2 separate regions of the Homo sapiens genome follow, and region 1 is linked to region 2. The links come from fine-mapping of genetic effects on plasma protein levels. Region 2 holds a variant in brackets. A gene starts in the other region. All regions are shown on one strand. Distances are from middle to middle. Region 1 holds the start of FAM20A (FAM20A golgi associated secretory pathway pseudokinase). Region 2 overlaps SARM1 (sterile alpha and TIR motif containing 1).

What was found. PIP is the chance, under the fine-mapping model, that this variant and not a neighbour inherited with it causes the effect. The UK Biobank Pharma Proteomics Project read protein levels with antibody pairs (Olink). The fine-mapping took linkage between variants from a reference panel, not from the people measured, so its PIPs are less certain.
Region 1: FAM20A starts here. The variant in region 2 is fine-mapped to the plasma level of the FAM20A protein (UK Biobank, PIP above 0.99).

What each region holds. Positions count from the first base shown.
Region 1 is chr17:68,599,862-68,602,757 of GRCh38, reverse strand. FAM20A (FAM20A golgi associated secretory pathway pseudokinase) reads left to right here and starts at 1,391. Exons shown (of 11, transcript NM_017565.4): 1 at 1,391-2,495. The coding sequence starts at 2,092.
Region 2 is chr17:28,396,614-28,399,499 of GRCh38, reverse strand. It overlaps SARM1 (sterile alpha and TIR motif containing 1), which reads right to left. Exons shown (of 9, transcript NM_015077.4): 9 at 1-2,886. SLC46A1 (solute carrier family 46 member 1) reads left to right here. Exons shown (of 5, transcript NM_080669.6): 5 at 1-2,886. Among named protein-coding and RNA genes, the nearest start is that of SLC46A1, 8.2 kb to the left of the region's middle. RefSeq lists enhancers at 915-1,004, 1,769-2,452. The variant C/T (reference allele first, on the strand shown) is at 1,251.

The sequences.
Region 1 (2,896 bases), 40 Mb before region 2:
CACTTATTTAGGATGAGTTAGGAGCTCTTCTAAGTAATTTATACATAGTCAAGTGCCACATAACATTTTAGTCAATGCAACAGTGGTCCCATAAGATTACAATACTGTATTTTTACTGTATGTTTCCTATGTTTAGACACACAAGTACTCACCACTGTGTTACAACTCCCTACAGCATTCAGTAGTCGCATGCTGTACAGGTTTGTACCTAGGATCAACAGGCTATGCCATGTAGCCTCCGTGTGTAGTAGGCTGAACCATCTAGGTTTGTGTAAGTACACCCTGATGTTCACACACACAGGAAAATTGCCTAAGGATGCATTTCTCAGACGTGACACATAATTGTACTTCAATTCATTTAAGTCTCATAATAACCTTAGGAGGTAGGTTCCATCATTATCTTCATTTACATTTGAGGAGACTGCAAAGTCCCGAAGAAATCTTACACTGAACCACGGGGAAAAGAACTCTGGTCTGAACCCACAAGTCAAAGTATGTCTGAGGGTTCTCAATTCCAGCAAGGGAAGGGAGGGGGTTAAAGAGTAGAACTAACTTACATGGGAAGCTTTGCTGCCTGGGCAAGCAGCTTCTGGTGGATTTCCTGAAATTCAGCAGGGTGGGGCCGCCTCTCCAATCAGACTTCACTTTACTATACTATGGGGTCATTAAATAGAGGAGCCAGGAGTTCAGGACTCCCTCCCTCTTCTTCAAAAGGAAAACTGGGTGTGGGGAGGGTACATTACCTCACAGAATATTGGAGAAAGCCTAAATGTGTCCTCCAGTGATTCATTTGGGTGGACTACTTTCACACCAAGCTAAACTCAAAAGTTCGGAGTGGGGTCATCAGGGCCCCTCCCTCCCTGAGTGCAAGAAACATTTCCTCTTTTTAAAGTACAGGCAGAGTTGGAATCAAACTCCTTCCAAACAGGAAATCAGCAAGATTCTAGGTAAAACTGATACCTTACTTTTAAAGGTCAAGCTCTTTCCTTCACCAAGAGCGTGTTTCCTGAGCACCTACTATGTGCCAGGCATGTGGTAGGTAGTTGTTATGAATCTTGATGTGCCCTGCGCTCTGCAGGGGGGCGGAGGTGGAAGGGAACACAAAGAAAGAACAGATACCAACACTGCCACCCCCGCCTCCCCCCACCCCCCCCCACACACTCATTTGGCAAAGCTTACAGGAAAAAAAGGGTTTTAGGGGGCTTGTGGTGGTTTTTTTTTCCCTAAAAATAATAGAAATGGTAAAAAGAGGCTTCGGACCCCTCGCGTGAGTCCCTTAAAGTGACTGGATTGAGACCTGGGCAGGGAAAGTGGGAGGCCCGAGCGAGGGGGAGGGCGCAGGCAGTGGGTGGGTGACAAGGTGCAAGGGCAGCGCCGGCTTCGGATCGGGAGTTGGCCGTCAGCTGCGCCAGAGGCAGGTGCCAGCGGAGAGTGGGTGGGGGTGCCGGCGCCAGGCCAGGCTCGGGGAGGCCCCGCGCTACCTCTGCCTCTAGGAGTCCAGGCGCACAGACAAGCTCCCCGGAGCCGCTCCTGCTTCGCCAACTCCCCACTCGCGCCGCCCGTGCCAGCCGCCGGCACTGGCGTCTCCGCCGCCCGCAGGAGGAGTCGCGGGAGCACTAGCAGCCGCCGCCGAGCGACAGCATCCTCAGGAGAGACGCCCCGGGCTTTGCAGCCGGCGGCCTCCGTCCGCCCTCCGCGGTCGCCCCCCGCCCCGTCGCCCGTCCGCCCGCGGTGGCAGCCGGCGCCGGCGCCCCGGGGCCCTTCACCTGCCGCGAGCGTCCGGGCGGGCGGGCGCACGGGAGAAAAGGCGCAAGAAGCGGGCACCCCGGGAACCCCATTCCCTCGGCTCACTCGGCGCGGAGAAGCGACGCCCGCTGACTCCGAGAGCCCCGGTGCTCCGTGCACCTGGTCCCCAAGTTGAGGAGCGACACCCCTCCACAGGGGACTAGCCCGCGCGGGGAGCATTCCGGTCTCACTGACCCCGGCCCACCCGCGGGACTCCAGGCACCTCTTCTGCCCGCACCCCGCGACCCCTCCCGGGACCCCGGAGACAGCCGGCCTGCCCCCGGCGTCCCCCTTGGCCAGCACGCCATGCCGGGGCTGCGCCGGGACCGCCTACTGACTCTGCTGCTGCTGGGCGCGCTGCTCTCCGCCGACCTCTACTTCCACCTCTGGCCCCAAGTACAGCGCCAGCTGCGGCCTCGGGAGCGCCCGCGGGGGTGCCCGTGCACCGGCCGCGCCTCCTCCCTGGCGCGGGACTCGGCCGCAGCTGCCTCGGACCCCGGCACGATCGTGCACAACTTTTCCCGAACCGAGCCCCGGACTGAACCGGCTGGCGGCAGCCACAGCGGGTCGAGCTCCAAGTTGCAGGCCCTCTTCGCCCACCCGCTGTACAACGTCCCGGAGGAGCCGCCTCTCCTGGGAGCCGAGGACTCGCTCCTGGCCAGCCAGGAGGCGCTGCGGTATTACCGGAGGAAGGTGGCCCGCTGGAACAGGTGAGGACCCCGCCCGGGACGCGGGAGAGCGGGCGCTCTGGCCGGGGCCTCCCCGCGCCCCAGTCTCGAGTTTCCTGACGCCCCCGGCCCAGGGCTGCAGCGGCTCCACCCACGGCTCCAGCCCTGGCGCTGGGCTTAGAGTGTGTTCCCCACCCGAACCCCACCAGCTGTTGCAGACCTCACAGTCCAGTCCCGGAGTCAGATAGTACGAGGAAAAAGTTTCTATTGCAGCCGCACAGCGAAGAAACGCTCTCAGCCCCTTCCCCTTGAGCGCCTGGGTCGTCGTTGAGCCCCACTCCTGCTCCCTCGTCCACTCCCGCTCCCTCGTCCGCTCCCAAACCCCACTCTCTGTCCTGATGTGGAGGAAAGCTGCCGCTGGACTTCGGGTTTCCAGAATGAGG
Region 2 (2,886 bases):
ACCCCATCCACAGCTGACCCAGCCTCTGTCTAGGATCTAGAATCATAACCCACACAGGCCCACTGCAGGACAGGTGGCAGAGGAGCTATTTGGGACAGGAGTCAGTTCTCCCTTTCTGCTATCCATCACTTATAACCCCACAGGCCAGAGGAGAGGTCCTGAGAGAGGTGACACTTCAGGGACCAGAGGCAGCACGAGGGCTGGCATCTCTCCTTCCAGCCCAAACTGCACAGCCCCAACCAGGTTCCCAACACGTGTAGCAGTCATCAGCCATTCCTTAACAATGAATGTGGTACCTGGTTAGTGCCAGCCTTGGGAAGGAGGGAGGGAGGTAAGAGGGGCTTGGTGATCTCTGGAGGAAGAGTGTTGCCTTTGCTGTGGTTGGGGAATCGATCCTTGGCTATGGCCTACCCACTCCCCTGGCTGAAGAGTGCCAATCATTACAAATCAGCTTCAGCAAACTGAAACAAACCTTCTGGTGCCTTGGGCTTTGGGGCCCTCTGTTTTCCTGCTCCCAGTCTGCCTGCCATACGTTAGACAACAGAAGCTGCTGGGCTGGGCAGGAGCCCTGAGCTGCCTGGTGGATTGGTACCAAGTGGGGCCAGCCAGGGCTTCTACTGACTCGCTGTGCAACCTTGAGCAAGCCCCACTAGGAACGGCTAGATCAGCAATGCCCCAAATTGTTGAATCGTGGTGATCACATTTGGATGGACAAGTTAGGAAACTTAGCTGATTCTCTGAGATACTTCCCACTTCCTCATACATTCTACAATGAGATGCCTCTCTTCATGGGCCTGGGGAAAGGATGAATGAGTGTGGCTGGACTTTTGACCTTTAATGTCCCTGAGCAGTTCTTGGCCCTTGGGGAGAAGTAGGGGGAGGATCTGGCTGACTCAGCCCCAACCGAGGGGTAGCAGCTGCAGCCCAGCCAAGCAGAACACCCTGGCCCTACAGACCTGTGTCTGAGCAGGCTTTGGAGGAAAGGCCACTTCTGAGTCCTCTGTCTCAGGAGAAGCCAGGCCTAGGTGCTTGACCTGGTGATCTGAGCTGTGTTTGTCCTAGTATGGGTGGCAGTCACCTCTGAACACACTGGCCTTGGCTTAGAGGAGGCTTGTGACTTCAGCTGTTCCAGCTGGGGCTGGATGCTGGACTCTGATTCCCTCAGAGAGACAGAAGATCGGGCAGAGGTCAACCAGAAGGCCACACAGGGCAGTGGACAACAGTGGAGGGTATACCAAATAGAAATAAAA[C/T]GCAGGAAACCTCTCTGAATACTGCCCTTGGGGACCTCAGGAGGGAGTGGGACTGATTGGAGACAAAGAGCCAGAAATCATCCCCTGGAGATACTCAGACACTGTATTGTTATTGGCGCTGTCCTGTGAGGGCAGTGTCCAGGCTGCCCTGCTTGTCATATCCATGCCCTGGCTCTGGCCCCGGTGAGCACTTGTGCTGCATGAGGAAAGGAGGATCAGGTGGGGTCAAAACCAAAGCATCGAGGCTGGCACTGGCCAAGACAGACTCTGGCAGGGAGGGGAGTGGAAGGAAGGAGCCCCAAACCTGGAGTGAGACCTTTGACTTTCTGATGATGTGGCCAAGAACTAGGAGTCACCTGGCCAGCACAGCCAAGAGTGGGGCTGGGGGCGCAGCCAGCTTTAAGGTGTCAACACCTGGCCCTTGCGGGGAAAGAGCCTTCAGCAGCCCCCACGGCCTGGAGCCTGGGTTTATTGGAGGGTGCTTTCTTACCCTCTGAACCCAGTGGAGGAGGGGGCAATGGGATATTCCTGCTCTGTATGGCCTCTGGGTCAGCTTTTTGTTGCAAAATCCTATCCCCCGCTGCTAGATTCTTTGAAGCAAGGGAGAAGCAATAGCCCAGCCTCAGAATGATTCTCAGGAAAGCAATTCCACTGCCAGTGGACTGGGTGCCAGGAGGCCTAGGTCTGGATCTGGGGCTGCCACTAATGACAGGAAAGTGGGCTTATCCTCAACCTTTCTGAGCCTCAGTGTCATTATCTGTAAAATGGGGATGATAATACCAGGTAGAGTTGCTCTGATGACTGGAGACCATGGAGCGGAGTGTTTGGGAAATGGCAAAGATTTGTGAGGGCTTCGTGCTTTAGAGATTTGCTACCCTTAACCACCAGCATCAGCTCACCTGGGAATCTGTAAGAAATGCAGAGTCCTAGGCCCCACCCCAGATCTCCTGATTTTAACAACATTCCCAGGTGACTTGGATGCATGTTAAAGTTGGAGAAGCTGCCCTAAGTGACAACCCTTTGCCTTTTCAGGACTTTGCCTCTTTCCACAGAGCTGCAGGTTCTGTCTAGGCTGCTTTTACTGCCATGGGGGCTGCCTGGTCCCTGAGTAAGCAGTGGGTAGCCCTGGATGGCTGAGGGGCTGGGGAAGCCAGCTGGGCCAGACCAGGAAGGAGCCTGAGGCACAGCACCAAGGCATGGGGTAGGGTGGGCTTTGAGGCACGGCCTCCCCATGCCCAGACCCAGGCCCAAACAGGAGGCTCCTGTGCACCAGCAAGTGCAGCAAAGCTGGCTGCAGTGACAAGGAAGTCAGAGGGAGGGCTGGTTTGCCTCAACCCTCGCCCTGGATGTGGCAAAAGATACCACACCGAAGGAAGCTGTAGGGGATCTGGGACTTAGTCAGGCTAGCTAAGGGCACTGAGTGATTACAGGGCAAGGCCACAGAGCGGCAGGAAGTTGTAAGTGCAGGGGCCAGGCACAGTCTGAGTGGAGAGCCATGATGGCACTCATCCCTGGCTGGCTCCTGGGCCCAGGCCCTTGCTCAGAATACAGTGCCCAGGCCCGCCTGGGCATTGCCTTAATTCCTGTCTGAGGCTGCCTTCCGTCATCCTCCTCAAGCTGACTGCTATCAGCAGGA